Regions from separate parts of the Homo sapiens genome. Here region 2 is linked to region 1. Evidence: fine-mapped expression QTL. A gene starts in region 1. The other region holds a variant in brackets. All regions are shown on one strand. Distances are from middle to middle.

Region 1 (8,526 bases):
AGTTATCCTCCAAATGTACCCCAGATCCACCCCAACTCATGGTCCCTGTGATCACGTCCGTCTCTTGCTCAAACTCCCACCATGGTTCCCTAGTCCTCTCACCATGAAGACCCAATTCCTCCCTGTGGCATAGGAGGCCCTGCCCCTCTCTCTGATCTTGGCTCCTCTTCTCTGGTCTTCTCTGGGCTCCAGCCTCACAGGCCCCGTTCCTTGAACACCCCACACCCCCTCCCACCTCAGTACCTTTGTCCCTCAGCTTCCCCTGCCTGGCATGGTATCCGCTCTCTGCCTGTCGACCGCATGCATCTTGAGGTCATAGCCCAAGAGTCACTGCCCCAGGGGACCCACTCCCTGTGGGAGATGGTCCTTCTTCCCCTGAATGCCCTACAGCAGGAGGTGTGAGGCTGTGTTCCCATTCCCGTCAACCTCAGAGCCTCCTGCCCAGCTCTCCTGGCCCTCTGGCTCCCATAAGTCTGGGTGGAGGGGTAGGGGTCTGATCACCGACAAGCCTCTTCCCTTCCTTGGTGTCCTCATAGCTGGAAGTGCCCGAGGAGTCAGGAACCCTTGTGATCAGACCCCAGGAACTGGAGTGTGTCCCCACTGCTCCATTTCACACCAGAATCTCCTCCCTCCGCTAGGGGAGAACAATCATAAGCCCCTAGCACTCCCAATCTCAGGAGGCTTCCCTGCCCAGGTCCAACCAGCAAGCCTGGAGACGCCTCCTCCCAGAAGGCAGGAAGAATGGGGCCGGGTGTGGTGGCTCATGCTGGTAAGCCCATCACTTTGGGTAGGCCAAGGCAGGAAGATCGCTTGAGGCCAGGAGTTCTAGACCAGCCTGGGCGACAGGGTGAAACCCCGTCTCTATAAAAAAATACAAAAATTAGCCAGGCGTGGCAGTGGGCACCTATAATCCCAGCTACTCAGGAGGCTGAGGCAGGAGAATCGCTTGACCCCAGGAGGTGGAGGTTGTAGTGAGCTGAGCTGGCACCACTGCCCTCCAGCCTGGACGACAGAGTGAGATTTCATCTAAAAAAAAAAATTTTTTTTTAAGAGATGGGGTCTTGCTGTGTTGTCCAGTCTGGTCTCAAACTCCTGGGCTCAAGCGATCCTTCCACCTCACCCCATCTCTGCTAAAATAAAATAAAAACGAAGTTGTGGAGAATAAGGGAATGGGCCCTACCCTGGCCGAGTCCCAGCCCAGGGCTCTGTGGGGTGGTCCTGATCTGGTCGTGTTGGGATCAGGCCCCTCACTGGAGGTCTGAGCTCGAGCAGGAAGCCCCCACTTTGGGAGGCGACACCGATCGCCCCAGCTGCCCGTGCTCAGTGGACGCCGGAGCGAGGTTTGTCCCAGGGCCTGACGTGGGTGATAAGTGCTGGGCCGCCACTCCCTTCTCCGCCCCTGCTGGAGGGCGCTGGGGGTTGGGGGAGTGTGTTCATACCCTGGGAGAAGTCAAAGGTGCCCACTTTAGGGACAAATGGAAACAGAAATCTGGAGGGTGGCCCCGAAGTCCTAATCCAAGCCCAGTCTCTCTGCGGACAGCTGTGGCCTGCACACCTACTGCGTCTGTCTCTGGAAACCTCGCCATCGCCGCCCCTCGCCCCCCTCGCTTCTGTGTCTCCCTAGTGGGAAGTTGTCCTTGGCCTCAGTTTTTCTGACATACGTGGTTCATGTTGGCGGGGGCGCACACAGTAGGTGTGGAGGGAACAGGCGGCAGGTGCAGAGGCCCTGCTCCTCCTCCTGCCCGGCCCCAGAGCAAAACAAAGGCCACAGTCAGGAGGATAGCTTGCTGCCTGTCCCCGTACCAGGGCCCTGGAGGGAGCACCCAGGCCTCGGGGCTGGGCAGAGGTGGTGGCCAAGTGGGGGGCCCCCACGGGCTGCTCCACCCAGTGACTCAGCCCCAGGACTGACCTCCTTGGGGAAAACAATGGTGGCTTGTGGTTACCAGCGGAACCTCCTGGCAGGCGCGAGCCCCAGGGTGCCCTGGGGCCCAGGGAGGAGACCCCTAGTCTCAGTTTCCTCATCTGTACGATACGTGGAACCACACAGGCAGGAGGACCTCACAGGAAAGAGCCACATTCAGGACTAGACAAGGGGTCCCTCATGGGTCATCCTGCCGGGACAGCAGGGACTGAGTCCATCACTGTCCACAGTGCTACGATGCGCGGCACAAGGCCCCGTTCGCTGTCAGTGCCCGATAATTGAATAGTCTTGTACGGCGCAGTGGCACACGCCTGTAATCCCAGCACTCTGGGAAGCCAAGGCGGGAGGATCACTTGTGCCTAGGAGTTCAAGACCAGCCTGGGCAACATAGGGAGAACCCCGTCTCTACAAAAAATACAAAATTAGCTGGGTGTGGTGGCGCGTGCCTGTGGTCCCAGCTACTCGGGAAACTGAGGCGGGAGGATCGTTTGAGCCCAGGAGGTCAAGGCTGCAGTGAGCTGTGATCTCACCACTGCACTCCAGCCTGGGCAACAGAGCGAGACTCTTTCTCAAAATAATAATAATAATAATAAGAAGAAGAAGAAGAAGAAGAAGAAGAAGAAGAAGTCCGTGATTGGATGGTTGCTTCCCTTCCGTGGGTGAAACTGAAGGGCTCCTCGGGAGGACTCCGGCTGCCACACTATGGCTTGGACCCTGAGTGTGGGTGGGGAGTGGCCCACAGTGAGCTCCCTACACTGGAATGGGGAGAGCCAGACCCGGCCACAGACACCCTCAGACCCATGGGGTCAGGGCTGGGCCACAAGGAAGGGCCGGGGGCTGAGGAGGCTGGGGTGGGATTGGAGCTGCTTGGAGACCCTGGCTCCGGAGAGGCCTCTGCGGGGGTGGGGGGCGGCTGAGGAAGGCAGGCATCAGCTGTGAGCACCTACTGTGTGCCAGACTCCCCCCTTCCACTGTCCAGATGGAGAAACCGAGGCCCGGAGAGTAGCACGAACTTGCCTGAGGTCACAGTGAGGTGGAGAGGGATGAGGGATTTGCAGCACAGACCCTGGGACCCACAGCCCTCTCCCCAGACCTGCGGCACGTGGAACTCTCTGGGCACGGAGGGTCGGACTGTGGACAGCCCAGTTTGGGTGTATAGCAGGAGGGGCTTGTGGCTTTGGTGGGGGGCCCCTGTGGCCCCGCCTCCCCGCCGGCCTGGCATAGGTGCAGCATTGAACTGTGATGACTCAGGGGCTCCAGATAGGGGTGGGAAAAGCCTCCCAGGTAGAGGACAAAGCAAACGTAGAGGCCCGGGGTGGGGATGAGCTTAGCAAGTTCTGGACCATCCAGAGGGCAGGATGGCTGGAGCCAAGCGGGCCAGCGAGATGGTGGCATCTTCCCAGGCTGGGAGTGGAGTGTAAATTTCCCTTTGGGGCCCCAGGGAGCCCTGGGAGATTGTGTTATTTTCATTTATTTGTTTAGTTATTTTACTTTTTTTTTTGAGACGGAGCCTCGTTCTGTCGCCCAGCCTGGAGTGCAGTGCTGCGATCTCTGCTCACTGCAACCTCTGCCTCCTGGGTTTAAGCGATTCTCCTGCCTCAGCTTCCCGAGTAGCTGAGATTATAGGTGTATGCCACCACGCCCAGCTAATTTTTGTATTTTTATTTTATTTTACTTATTTATTTATTTATTTTGAGACGGAGTTTCGTCCTTGTTGCCCAGGCTGGAGTACAATGGCGTGCTCTCGGCTCATTGCAACCTCCGCCTTTCGGGTGAAAGCGATTCTGCTGCCTCAGCCTCCCGAGTAGCTAGGACTACAGGTGCCCGCCACCATGCCCGGCTAATTTTTGTATTTTTAGTAGAGATGGGGTTTCACCGTGTTGGCCAGAGAGGTCTCGAACTCCTGACTTCAGGTGATCTGCCCGCCTTGGCCTCCCAAAGTGCTGGGAATACAAGCGTGGGCCACCGCGTCCGGTCAACTTTTTAAATTATTATTTTAAATTATTTTAAATATTTTTAGAGACGGGTGTGGGTGGGGGGGGTTTCACTATGTTGTTCAGGCTGTTCTCGAACTCCTGGCCTCAAGCGATCTTCCCGCCTCGGCCTCCTTCAAAGCGCTGGGATCACAGGCAGGAGCCACGGCGCCCGATCCTAGGCGGGGTCACTTTTTACTAAAATGTAGACACGGACTACTAAGAATCAGGAAGCCAGATCTGGCCTGAGTTCTGTCCAAAGTCAGGTCCAAATTCACAGATGCCGAGACGGAGACTCAAGTCGGCAAAGGCACCGCTGAGACTCCCCGCGGGGCTCTCTGACCCAGAGCCGGAGCCAGAGTCGGTTTTCCCGCCGGGAAAATGGGTCTGACGTAGCCCCCTCGGGGCCGTGATACCCGCTCGCACCACTCAGCACGCGGGGCCGGCCCGAGGAACGCAAATATAACCAAGCAGAAGGCTCCGCGCGGGCGGCCACGCCAACCTGAGAACAAAACTCCAGGACCCACCCCGGCCGCCTCTCGCGGCCTCTCGCTCGCAGAGTCCCGCCTCTGCTGAGGGGCGGGGCCGAGAAGAAAGGAGGCGGGGCCTCACCACGAATGGCTAGGATCCCCGCCCATCAGACTTTCGCGGCTTCCGATTGACCAGACTGCTCTGCCTTAGCTTTCAATCTCACGGGCCTTACTCGCTTGCGTCATGGACTAAGCGCACAGCTCGTGTGTGCTTCCGCGGACGGGGATAGTCCGTGATTTCTCCCCGCGCCGTGGCCCGACCGCCTCCTCTGCGCGTCCCCGCTCCCAGGCTCTGGACCTCACGGGATTCGGGGTCCTCACGAGGGTGCTCGAGAGGCCGAGCTAGGGCGTTCGGGCCCGAGCCGCCCGGAGGTGGCGGAGGGATCCGCGTGGGCCGCCGGGCGGGGCACTCGGGGGCGGGGCAGGGGCGGGGCCTGCACGGGGCGGGGCGGGGCGGCGCGGGCGGGGGGCGGAACATGTCTCCCGCCGCAGGAAGATGAGGCAGCGGCGGCGGCTGCGGGCGTAGCGGGCCGGAGCCGACGCGGCGGCGGGCACCGCGGGCACCGCGCACGCCGCTGCCCCAGGGGCGCCCCGGCCGGCCGCGCGCACGGGCCCCGCGGGACGGGCCACGCGGGGGTGGGAGGGGCCCGGGCCACGCGCGCCGCCGCCGCCGCCCACGCGCGACCCTCGGGGGCCCGGCCGCGACGCACCTTTGTCCGGGGGGGGGCCCCCCCGCTTCATGCCGCCGCCCCCCCCCACGCGCCGCGTGCCCGGCCGCGCCCAGCAGGTGAGCCCGGCGGGGGGCGGGGGGCGCGCCCGGTACCCCCGTGCTTTGTGCCCAGGGAACCCCGGCCCGCCCCGCGCGCGCTTGTTGGGGGGGGGCGCGGAGGAAGTTGGGGCGGGGGCGGTGTCGGGGGGCGCCCCGCGGCCCGGGAGTCATTGTTCTCCAACTTCGCGCGGCGCCGGGGGGGCGGCGACGTGGAGGAGCCCGGAGCTCGCCAGGCCCGCGTCGCCCCCGTCGGGCCGGGCACTTCGGGAAACTTTAAGCAGCCCCGGGCGGGGGCGCGGGGGGCGCCGGACGGGCTGTGCAACTTAGGCGCGAGGACCGTCCCCCCCAGCCCGGGCGCACGGGGACCCCGGGGCGCCCCCTTTCTCGGGTAGAGGGGGGCCCGGCCCGGGCGCCGGAGTTTGGGGTGGGGAGCGCGCGGGAGGGACGTCCTTTTGTCTGCGCGGGGAAGGTGCCGCGCGCTGCAGGCGCTGGTCGGGGCCGGGCGGGCCGGGGGGGGGCGCGCGGGTAACATCTGCTCCGCGTTAATGCGGGGCGAGGCGGCGGCCGCGCTGCGAGCTTCAAAGGCTCCCGGGCCGCACCGCCTGCACCGGCTGCGGGGGGAGGGGGGTCCGGCTTCCCGGGCCGCCTCCCCCCGGGAAAAAGGCGTTCCAGCGCGCCCCCCGCCTTCGGCGCCGTGCAAAGTGGCTTCAAACATTCTCCAAGTCTCTCAAAGTCCTTGGGACGCCCCAGAAGTCTTCCAGCTCCCGTAGAATGCCCGTTTTAGCTCGCCACCCCCCCAACTAAGTCTGTCTTAAAATCGGTTTCAGCTACCCCACAAAAAAGTGCGGTTTCGTAGTCCTCAAAAAAAGTCAGTTTCACACGCCCTCCAAAAAAGAAAAAAACTGAGCGGGGGAGGGGCTGCGCTGGGGCGCCCGCTTCACACCCGGCCTCCAGTTGGCAGACAAAGAGGGGATTTCTCTGCTTCTGAAGTTGGGTCTCCCTCGACCTCGGAGGCTCCTCCCCACCCCCAGCCTCGGAGGTGTCTCCCGGGCTGCCCCCGTCCCCACCTGGGGACCCCTGGGGAAAGTCGAGACTGGAGGGGCCTGGAGTGCATTTCTTTGGAATGGAAATTTTTCTCTGTACCTTTTTCTGGGGGTGGAATGGGTCTTGGCAGGTGGATCCCCCATCCCCCATCTTAGAATGGAGCCCCCTGGGACCACGCGGGAGCACCCTGGTCTTGAGACGCTCTCCCCGCTCATGGAGGGCAGGCAAGGGATGTTGTCAAAGTTTTGCTTAAAAATAATTCCCGGATACATCGCGACAGTAAAGCAATCTAGGGCTGTTTTTTTTTTCTTTCCTGAATACTGTTGGGGTTTTCTTGGGGGGAGGGAGATTGAGGGTGGAGGAAAGCTTTGCTGGTCCCTGCATAGGATGCGCGTCCCCCCCACCCCCGGCACTTTAAGTCTTGAAGCTTGTAAAAGAGTTTCGTGGTTTTCTGACTTGTGGATTTCCTTCATGTTGAATTTGGGGGCGACCTGGTCTTCAACGGGCTGTGCCATCTGCTGGGGGAGGGGGGAATCACCAAATTTCCCTCGGGGCGGGGTAGGATCGGGCTGTTCCTCCCTTTCCCGGGGGTAGGGGGCCTCAGAGGAAGCCCGGGGTTGGTTGGAAATGAGAGAGTTGGAGAAAGGAGAGGTTCTGGCTGCCCTGCGTGCAGTTTAAACTTGGCAACTTGATGCCCTGGTGTTCCCTGGGGGAGTTAGGGAGTTTATATTTGCACACCCTCCCCCCATTTTTCAGACTCCCTGTGGTCTCTGGGGAGGACTCTGCAGGGACCTAGACTCTGGAATTCCAGCTTCCCTGCGCCTGCTCCCAGGGCTCCCCGTGCCCCCAGGGCTCTGCTGGAACTCAGACCCCAGGGCGGTTGAGGGTTTTTTAGGTGGCTTTTAGCACTCTGTGCTTTGACCACTCACAACTCTTCTCCCCTCCCTGTTTCTCCCTGTCCATCTGTCCCCACATCCACCAAGCAGGGTTTCCAGGCCTGAGGTGCCCGCCCTGGCCCCAGGAGAATGAACCAGCCGCAGAGGATGGCGCCTGTGGGCACAGACAAGGAGCTCAGTGACCTCCTGGACTTCAGCATGGTGAGCCAGGACCCCCGCCCAGCCCCCGACACCCCTTTGCCTCCACAGTTCACGGGAAGGTTTTCAGGGGAGAGTGTTTGCTGAATACTTCAGCGATGGAGCCTCAGCTGTTTGGATGGGAGGCCCCGGTGGGGCTGGGGGAGTGGGCCGCTCTCTGGCAGGAGGCTGACAGCGCACGGCAGCACGTGTGCTATGGGGCTTTTGCCCGGACGCAGCATTCTACAGCCTACTGCTTTACAGATGGGGAAACTGAGTCCTCAGGGGCATGGTCCTGGGCCCCCAGCTTGGCTGGGTAAGCAAAATGCGGCCTTGATCTTCTGATCTGTAAAATGGGCCTGATCAGGGTCGCTTACCTCATTGTAGATACAAAAATTAAAAGTAAGTAAAAGATCACTGCACTCCAGTCTGGTTGACAGTGAGACCCTGGAGACCCTGTTTCAGTAAATGGGAGGGGGGCTGGGCACAGTGGTTCCCACCTGTCATTCCAGCACTTTGGGAGGCTGAGGCGGGAGGATCGCTTGAGGCCAGGAGTTCCAAGTCCAGCCCAGGAAACATAGTGAGGCCCCATTTCTCAAAAAGACAAAACAAAACTCAAAAAATTAGCTAGGAGTGGTGGTAGATGCCTGTGGTCCCAGCTACTTGGGAGGCTGAGGCAAGGAGAATCACTTGAGCCCTGGAGGTTGAGGCTGCAGTGAGCTGTGATTGCGCCACTGCACTCCTTCCTGGGCGATAGAGTAAGATCCTTCCTCAAAGAAGTAAAGGAGGGGGTGCCCAGTGCTGAGCGGACCACCCTCCGTGAACAGGGCAGACACAACCTGCCCCATACGGGACTCCCCTGGTGGGCAGAGGATGCGGGCATGAAACTGACTGTGTGGTTAATTAGTCACACGTGGGTGCTGAAGTTAAGCTGCCAGAAGCCGAGCTTGGGCCAGGAGGAGGCTGGATTGGGATTGAGTGGGAATTCATGGGCCACCGAGCAGACAGCAGCGCCACCATTGTGACTGCCACGGTTATCACTGCGGAGCAGGCAGGCCCGGTGGGGAGGGCGGGGCGGCTTCTTCAGAGTCTTAGGTGGTTGGATCTGTCCCTGTACGGCCCATTCTCCACCTGGGTGAACGGAGGCTCAGAGGGTGCTGGTCCTCAGAAGTCACACAGTTCAGGCAGGTGCAGTGAGGCTGGAATGCCGGAGCCC
Region 2 (8,000 bases), 34 kb after region 1:
GTCAGGCTCTGCTCCCAACAGTATCACTCACTCCCCTCCTTCCCCAGGGTGCACTTTCTCTGCCCTGAAACCGCCCCCCAGTTTATTACAACATCAGGCCCACCCAGCATACTTCCCGCTCCAGCACAGCAGCAGACGTTACCAACAGGCCCCAGCCCCACAGTCCAGGCAGTGCCAACCAGTCAGAGCTGGCGCTACTCACAGACCCCTCTTCCTGTTACTTTAGTGAAGGACGAATGTTGCTCTGGGACCAAGGGAAGCTCAGCACTGGAAGATTGATTCCAGCTGGGGAACAAGGGAGAAGGATGGGATGGGGTGTTGGAGCTGGGGTTTTGATGGGTCGATAGGAGTTTTCTGGATTAAGGAGGAAAAAGGTTTAGTAGGCAGAGCCAGATCCAAGTCCTCAAGTACAAAGGTCAGAAGTTCAGGGAGGCGGGAGGTGGGGGCTGGAAAAGGAGTAGGAGAGAGAGACCAGGACATCATAAGAACCTCAAACTTGGCCAGGGGCTGGGATTTACCTAAAGGGGGGTGGCTTTACAGGGAAGGGAAACGGGGTGGTAGATGTGCTACCAGGAGGGGACAGGAGGCCGGCAAGGTGCATGGGCTGATCGTGGTCCCTCCGTCCTGACTGCACCCCCCACCGCCCACCCGCCCGCAGGTGTACCCACCCAGCTCAGGTGAGGACTACGGCAGGGATGCCACCGCCTACCCGTCCGCCAAGACCCCCAGCAGCACCTATCCCGCCCCCTTCTACGTGGCAGGTACATGGCAGGGCGGGGGCTCGCCAGGGACGGTAGGGCAGGGCTGGGGTTCCCCACTCGGCCCCCACCTTACCAGCTCCCCTCCACAGATGGCAGCCTGCACCCCTCAGCCGAGCTCTGGAGTCCCCCGGGCCAGGCGGGCTTCGGGCCCATGCTGGGTGGGGGCTCATCCCCGCTGCCCCTCCCGCCCGGTAGCGGCCCGGTGGGCAGCAGTGGAAGCAGCAGCACGTTTGGTGGCCTGCACCAGCACGAGCGTATGGTAGGACCCAGGGCAGGGGGCAGGGGGTGGGCGGAGGGTGGCAGTGCCCATCTAACCCACCCTCCTCCTGCCTGACCCCCCAGGGCTACCAGCTGCATGGAGCAGAGGTGAACGGTGGGCTCCCATCTGCATCCTCCTTCTCCTCAGCCCCCGGAGCCACGTACGGCGGCGTCTCCAGCCACACGCCGCCTGTCAGCGGGGCCGACAGCCTCCTGGGTATGGCCCCTCCCTGGGATGCGGCCTCTCCGAGGGGACACTGGGCTCCAGGCAGGGTCTGGGTGGGGGGTGGCGAGGACTCCACGGGAGGCGCAGGCGCGTCTGCTGGCCCTGAGAGCGGGTTGTTGTCAGTTCTCATTGTCCGCTGTCTGCAGGGCCTGCCACGTGCGTTGGGCTTGGGATGTCTGGAAACAGATCTTTGAGGAGCGGCTTTCCCGCCTTACAGCTGGGAAAGAGGCTCAGAGAGGGACTCACCCACCCAGGGTCAGAGAGGGACTCACCCACCCAGGGTCAGAGAGGGACTCACCCACCCAGGCCCAGAGAGGGACTCACCCACCCAGGCCCAGAGAGGGACTCAGTTACCCAGGCCCAGAGAGGGACTCACCCATCCAGGCCCAGAGGGGGACTCACCCACCCAGGCCCAGAAGGGGACTCACCCACCCAGGGTCCCCTGCCAGTGGCCTGTCCCCAGTGCCTCAACCCCTGCAGAGGCTGGTTTCAGGGGGTCAGACAGAAACCGGACCCGAGTCAGGCTGCTCTCCCTGGCGCAGCAGTGTCTGTGCAGGACGGCAGAACGCAGGAGAGCTTGCCGTCGGCGGCAGCACCCAGGCCGGGCTGCGTGGGCCTCACCTCTCTTCACCCACAGGCTCCCGAGGGACCACAGCTGGCAGCTCCGGGGATGCCCTCGGCAAAGCACTGGCCTCGGTGAGGCGTGGGGCATGGGGGGTGGCCAGGCAAGTGACCTGAGAGGCCGGCCCCTGACCGCCCATCTCTCCTGGTCCTCCTCGCAGATCTACTCCCCGGATCACTCAAGCAATAACTTCTCGTCCAGCCCTTCTACCCCCGTGGGCTCCCCCCAGGGCCTGGCAGGTCTGTGAGGGTTTTGGGGGGAGGGGAGGCTGAGGTCTGTGAGGGTTTGGGGGGAGGGGAGGCTGAGGTCTGTGAAGGCTTTGCGGGGGAGGGGAGGCTGGTTCTGGTGTCTGCACCTTGCTGGGATAGGCAGGCAGCGGGGAGGGAGCAGATGGCCCCCAAGGGCCCGTGGCATCGCTGGTCAGGAACCGACGGTGGAAGGGAGTCCCCCATGGGCTTGTGTTCCACTGGGCAATCCAGGAAAGCTGCCTAGTGGAGGCAGCCTCCAAGCCAGCCCTCCAAGGCTATAGCACATAACCAGGCAGTGAGGGAGGGCTGGGAGGTGGCGTCCAGGTTAGGTCACAGCACAGGCAAAGCCAGGAGGCAGGACCTGGCAGTTCACACTGCGTGAACATGAGGGGACATTGGCGTGCCTAGCAGCTCCCAGGTCCGATGGGGCCAGCATCGCCAGGGCTGTGGCCTGGACTCTAGAATGTGTGCGTGTTGCCATTTGCTCACCCACTGGGTATTTATTAGGTACTGACTGTTTACCCTGTGCGGTGCTCCGGCATGGGAGGGCAGACCCTCCTATCCCTGTGAGGACGTGCTTGCTTATCCGCAGGGGGTCGGGGGCAGGTACAGGAGGAGGGGGAGTGAGAACTGGAGGTTTCCAGAAGGTCTGGGTGTTTAAAAACACCCGTGAGTCCTCATCTCTGCCCCCATGGGAAGCGCCAGGAACCCTCACTTCACCTCGGCCTGTCTGGTCCCACCTGGAGCTTGCCACTTTCTTGCCTGCTGCTGGAGCCCAGCGTGGGTCAGCCAGGGTGGGGCAGCATGGGGAGGAGCCCCCTACTGTGTGCTGCCGAGCCACTTTATCCTCTGAGTGGGGAGTTGGATTTTGTAGATGGGGAAACTGAGGCTCAGAGATAGGAATGGCAGTACCCACTGGGCACCCAGCATCCCTGCCTGGCGGGGCCGAGCAGCTTTGCATCAGTGTGGGGTGCCCCGGAATGGCCATCTTGGGCATCACCGGAGGCTGGACAGGCGGGGTGGTTCATGAATCCCTCCCCATGGGCATCAGGCCATGCTCACACCCCGCCCCTCGCACCCCATTCACGTCCCCACTCCCTTCCAGGAACGTCACAGTGGCCTCGAGCAGGAGCCCCCGGTGCCTTATCGCCCAGCTACGACGGGGGTCTCCACGGCCTGGTGAGTGCCTGCCCCGCCCCACCCCACCCTTCCCCGACAGAATTTGCAGGACAGACGCTCCTTGAGAAGGAGAAACCTTTTTGTTAGTTTCTTGTAAATAAGCCCCAAGCTGTTATTGAGGCCTCGTGGCCGCCAAGGCACACACATTTTGTGTGTGCTCCCGGGCGCCAGATGCCTGGCATATGCAGCTTCCTGGGGAAGGGGAAGATGGGACCACCGGCCACTTGCATGCGGAAGGGACATGAATGGAGGCCTGTGGGGTCCCTCGGCTTGGGCCCCTCACCACCCATCCCCCCACCCTGCAGCAGAGTAAGATAGAAGACCACCTGGACGAGGCCATCCACGTGCTCCGCAGCCACGCCGTGGGCACAGCCGGCGACATGCACACGCTGCTGCCTGGCCACGGGGCGCTGGCCTCAGGTTTCACCGGCCCCATGTCACTGGG[C/T]GGGCGGCACGCAGGCCTGGTGAGCGCTGGGCGAGGGTGGAGCTGGGCAGTGGGCGGGGACCCGGCTCCCCCTGATGCACCCGTCTCCCCACGCCTGCAGGTTGGAGGCAGCCACCCCGAGGACGGCCTCGCAGGCAGCACCAGCCTCATGCACAACCACGCGGCCCTCCCCAGCCAGCCAGGCACCCTCCCTGACCTGTCTCGGCCTCCCGACTCCTACAGTGGTAAGCCCTTGAGCTTGGGACTGTCCGACTCCTGGTTCCAGTTGGGGAAACTGAGGCACTCTAGTGGTGGGGGTCAGGGTGGGAGCCCAGGGCAGGTGTCACCGTGGGGGCACCTGGTGACATGGGCGCCCCAGTCAGCAACTTCAGGAGGGTGGGTAAGACCGGCGGGGCCGGCGTTGGCCCTGGGCGTGTGAGGTGGACAGCTCTGGGCTGCCTCTTCATTCGCCTGCTCCCAGACGCTGTGTGCCTGGCAGCGCTCAGCACTGGGGAAGGGGCGAGGGGTGCAGCAGGATGCCTCTGCCTCAGGGGAGACAGACCAGGAGCTCGCTGCACAGTACAGGTGCCAGGGAGAAGGAACGAAGTGGCTGCGGTGGGTTGGGGGTTTTGTATGGCTTTGAAGATGGTGGCCCATGAGGCCACAAGGTGGTGTTTGGGCAGCATCTGGGAGGAGGCAAGAGTAGGCAAGTACCTGGAGGAGGAGGGTTTCAGGCAGAGGGCGCAGCCCAGGCAAAGGCCCTGGGGCTGGACTGCACCTGGGAGGAACAGCCAGGAGACCCGTGGGGTTGGAGCAGAGTGAGGAGAGGGAGAGAGGGAAGGGGGGAGGGCGGGGCAGGGCAGGTCATGCGGGGCCTTGTGGGCTGCGGGGAGGACTTGGGATTTGGCCATGAGAAAGGTGGCAGCCGTGGAGGGCTGAGGAGGGATGGGACCTGACCCAGGTGCTCACAGATACCCTCTGGTGGCTGCTTGGAGGACAGACTATGAGTGGCACCGGGAGACCAAGGCAGAGGCCACAGGGCTGGTCCAGGGGCCTTGGAGGGGTGAGCAGTGGGTGGGCCCTGCATCTCCTGAAGGCGGGGCCCACAGGATTTGTGATGGACAGGACTTGAGGGTGAGAGAAGGCAGGGTGGCTCTGGGATTTCTGGCCCGAGCTGTGGGTGACACTGGGGCTGGGAACTCCGTAAGGAAGGGGACAAAGGAAAAGGTTGGGGACAAATCTGGACCTGGGCCTGGGGATTGTTGAGTGTCTCAGACACCCATGAGAGGCCCAGGAGAAGGTGGGGTCATTGTGGGCGCTGTCCTGGCCCTGTGCCTTCCACCAGCCCAGGAATCCTGCCTGCTTTCCAGGCAGACTTTCCAAGTACCTTGATTCTATCACTCCTAGGCCAGGGCATCTCACCGCAGCGGCTCTGCCCCCAGGGGACACTGGGTGATGTCTGGGGACATCTACAGTTGTCAGGGCTGAGGGGAGCTCCTGGCATGGAGTGGGTGGGGGCCAGGGATGCTGCTCAGCACCCTGCAGTGCCCAGGACGGCCCCACCCCAGAGAAGGGTCCGGACCCACAGGTCAGCAGTTTCCAGGGGCAGCCCCAAGCTTAGTCTTTCACCCATAGGCTCCCCTCTGTTTCCTTCCTGTCCTTCACTTCGTGTGCTGAGGCCTGGGCTGGTCCTGGTGGCTGGCGTTGGCCGATTGGAGCAGAGTTCACTGTGGGGAGCGGGTGCATTTCTGAGGCTCCCCCTCAGGGTACGGGGGTCTCAGGGGATGGCAGCTGGTTTGCTCCATGTGAGCCCTGACTGATTCCTGGACTCCCCAAGCCCGGGTTTTGGGGGTGGCCCAGGCCCTGCTGAATGCAGAGTGGCCGCATTCATTTGGGGCACTGTGTACCCTTAAGCCACATGTTTTGCAATTATTGTTCTTGAGCTTCATGAACACGGCGTCCCACTAGCGTGTTCTTTACACGCTGGTTTGCTGGCTTATGTTGTGTGTGGGGTACATGTGTGGTGTGAGCGGCTGGGGTCCCATTGTGAGTGTGCCGTTGGCCCTGGCCCGGGCGTGGGGCTGTAGGTCATTCCAACATCACGCTTTCCTGCCAACCTGCTGATCAAGGGTGTGATACACCTGTTGTCAATTCAGAGGAAAGGCTGATGAATTATTTTCCAAAGCAGCCAAGTTGCCCTCCCACAGGCAAGATTTTGACTGTTCAGGTCCCTCAACTTTGCTAGCTGACTGGGTATGAAAGGGTAGCGCAAAGCCACCCTAATTTGCATTTCCTTAATCTCTTGATGTGCTGAAGCGGACTTCCACGTGTTTCTAGCCATGTGGTTTCCTTGTCTGTGAGATGCCTTTTTGGATACCTTGCTTATTTTTCTACTGAGTTACTTTCTTTTTGTCCTTTCCCATTGATTGTGGGAGATCACCTCCTGGTTGGCTACATCTGTGGTGGGTGTCTTCTATTCTTTGGCAAATGCTTTTCTTTTCCTGGTATCTTTGCTGATCAGGAACTCTCAATTCTGATATAGTCCAGCTTACTGATTTTTGTTTTTTCTTTTTTACTTGTTTTGTTTTGAGACAGGGTCTCACCCTGTCACACCAGAGTGCAGGGGCATGATCACAGCTCACGGTAGCCATGACCCCCTGGCCTCAAGTGACCCTTCCACCTCAGCCTCCCAAAGTGCTGGGATCACAGGCGTGAGTCAGCCACTGTGCCCGGCCTGTGTTCTTTCAAAAGCAGCGCTTTGAGCACTTGCTTGGACAGCTCTTGGACTAAAATGAGAATGATAAAGATTAGCATAGCATCTGCACAAGGGTGACGTGGACATTCCTGAAGTGTTCCAAAGTTTTATTCTTTTTTTTTTTTTTGAGACGGAGTCTTGCTTTGTCACCCAGGCTGGAGTACAGTGGCGCAATCTTGGCTCACTGCAACCTCCGCCTCCTGGGTTCAAGTGATTCTCCTGCCTCAGCCTCCCAAGTAGCTGGGATTACAGGTACCCACCACCACAGCTGGCTAATTTTTTGTATTTTTAGTAGAGATGGGGTTTCACCATGTTAGCCAGGATGGTCTTGATCTCCTGACCTCGTGATCCACCCACCTCGGCCTCCCAAAATGCTGGCATTACAGGTGTGAGCTGGTGTGAGCCACTGTGCCCATCCGAAGTGTTCCATATTTTTAAGTTAATGATTGAAACAGTTTACTTTCACCAAAAAAGAAGAGTGTTCTTTTAGCATCTTAGTAGATTCCTGCCATTGAGTTGCTGCAGAATTTCTACACACTTTGTTCCAAAGGTGGTAAAACTGTTTCCCTTTCATCTTGTGGTCCTTAATCTGTCTGGCATTGGTAGCTACACATGGCGTGAGGTAGGGATCCAGTTCTGGTTGTTGGTTTTTTGTTTTTATTTTTGGCCAAGACCTGGTTTTTCCAGGAAAGCCCAAGTCCCTCACCACAGGAGCACAAAGAGATATGTCAGTTGGCCCTGGAGGCCGACGCAGGCCCCTGACCCTAGGCCTGTTGCAGGGCTAGGGCGAGCAGGTGCCACGGCGGCCGCCAGCGAGATCAAGCGGGAGGAGAAGGAGGACGAGGAGAACACGTCAGCGGCTGACCACTCGGAGGAGGAGAAGAAGGAGCTGAAGGCCCCCCGGGCCCGGACCAGGTGCCAACCCACCCCTCGGCACTCCCCACCCTCACCCCATCAGGACGCACATGTGCACAGGCCACACGCACACCGCACCCACACTGGGAGGCCGTCGGCGGGCCCCACGCTCTTCCCCCAACCTCACTGTCTCCCTCTGGCCCCCTCCCGGCGCCCTCCCCATAGCCCAGACGAGGACGAGGACGACCTTCTCCCCCCAGAGCAGAAGGCCGAGCGGGAGAAGGAGCGCCGGGTGGCCAATAACGCCCGGGAGCGGCTGCGGGTCCGTGACATCAACGAGGCCTTTAAGGAGCTGGGGCGCATGTGCCAACTGCACCTCAACAGCGAGAAGCCCCAGACCAAACTGCTCATCCTGCACCAGGCTGTCTCGGTCATCCTGAACTTGGAGCAGCAAGTGCGAGGTCAGTGGGGGCGCGGGCCACCAGCGTCCCTGCAGCGCCACCCTCCCTCGTGTTCCTGCCCTCGTTCTCCTTCCCCGCCCGCCTTCCTGGAGCCAGCCCTCCCTCTGCAGCAGTTGCCTCCTTGCAGTGACTGTGCCCTTCACCCCTCTGACCGCATTGCCATGACTGTCCACTCCTGACTGCCAGCCCTTCTCCCTGCCTGCCTCAGCAT

Evidence for each region.
Region 2: its variant is fine-mapped to the expression of TCF3 in whole blood (INTERVAL, PIP 0.98).

Annotation. Positions count from the first base shown.
Region 1 is chr19:1,648,985-1,657,510 of GRCh38, reverse strand. TCF3 (transcription factor 3) reads left to right here and starts at 4,896. Exons shown (of 19, transcript NM_003200.5): 1 at 4,896-5,211; 2 at 7,224-7,334. The coding sequence starts at 7,263. RefSeq lists enhancers at 4,158-4,267, 4,388-4,437, 7,856-8,355, 8,368-8,526 and silencers at 4,728-4,777, 4,788-4,917, 5,448-5,527, 5,618-5,847, 5,655-5,877 and 1 more.
Region 2 is chr19:1,615,074-1,623,073 of GRCh38, reverse strand. TCF3 (transcription factor 3) reads left to right here. Exons shown (of 19, transcript NM_003200.5): 9 at 659-761; 10 at 851-1,020; 11 at 1,104-1,236; 12 at 1,883-1,941; 13 at 2,028-2,106; 14 at 3,221-3,294; 15 at 3,600-3,758; 16 at 3,840-3,963; 17 at 7,253-7,388; 18 at 7,554-7,789. It also overlaps the pseudogene RNU6-1223P. Among named protein-coding and RNA genes, the nearest start is that of UQCR11, 14 kb to the right of the region's middle. The variant C/T (reference allele first, on the strand shown) is at 3,740.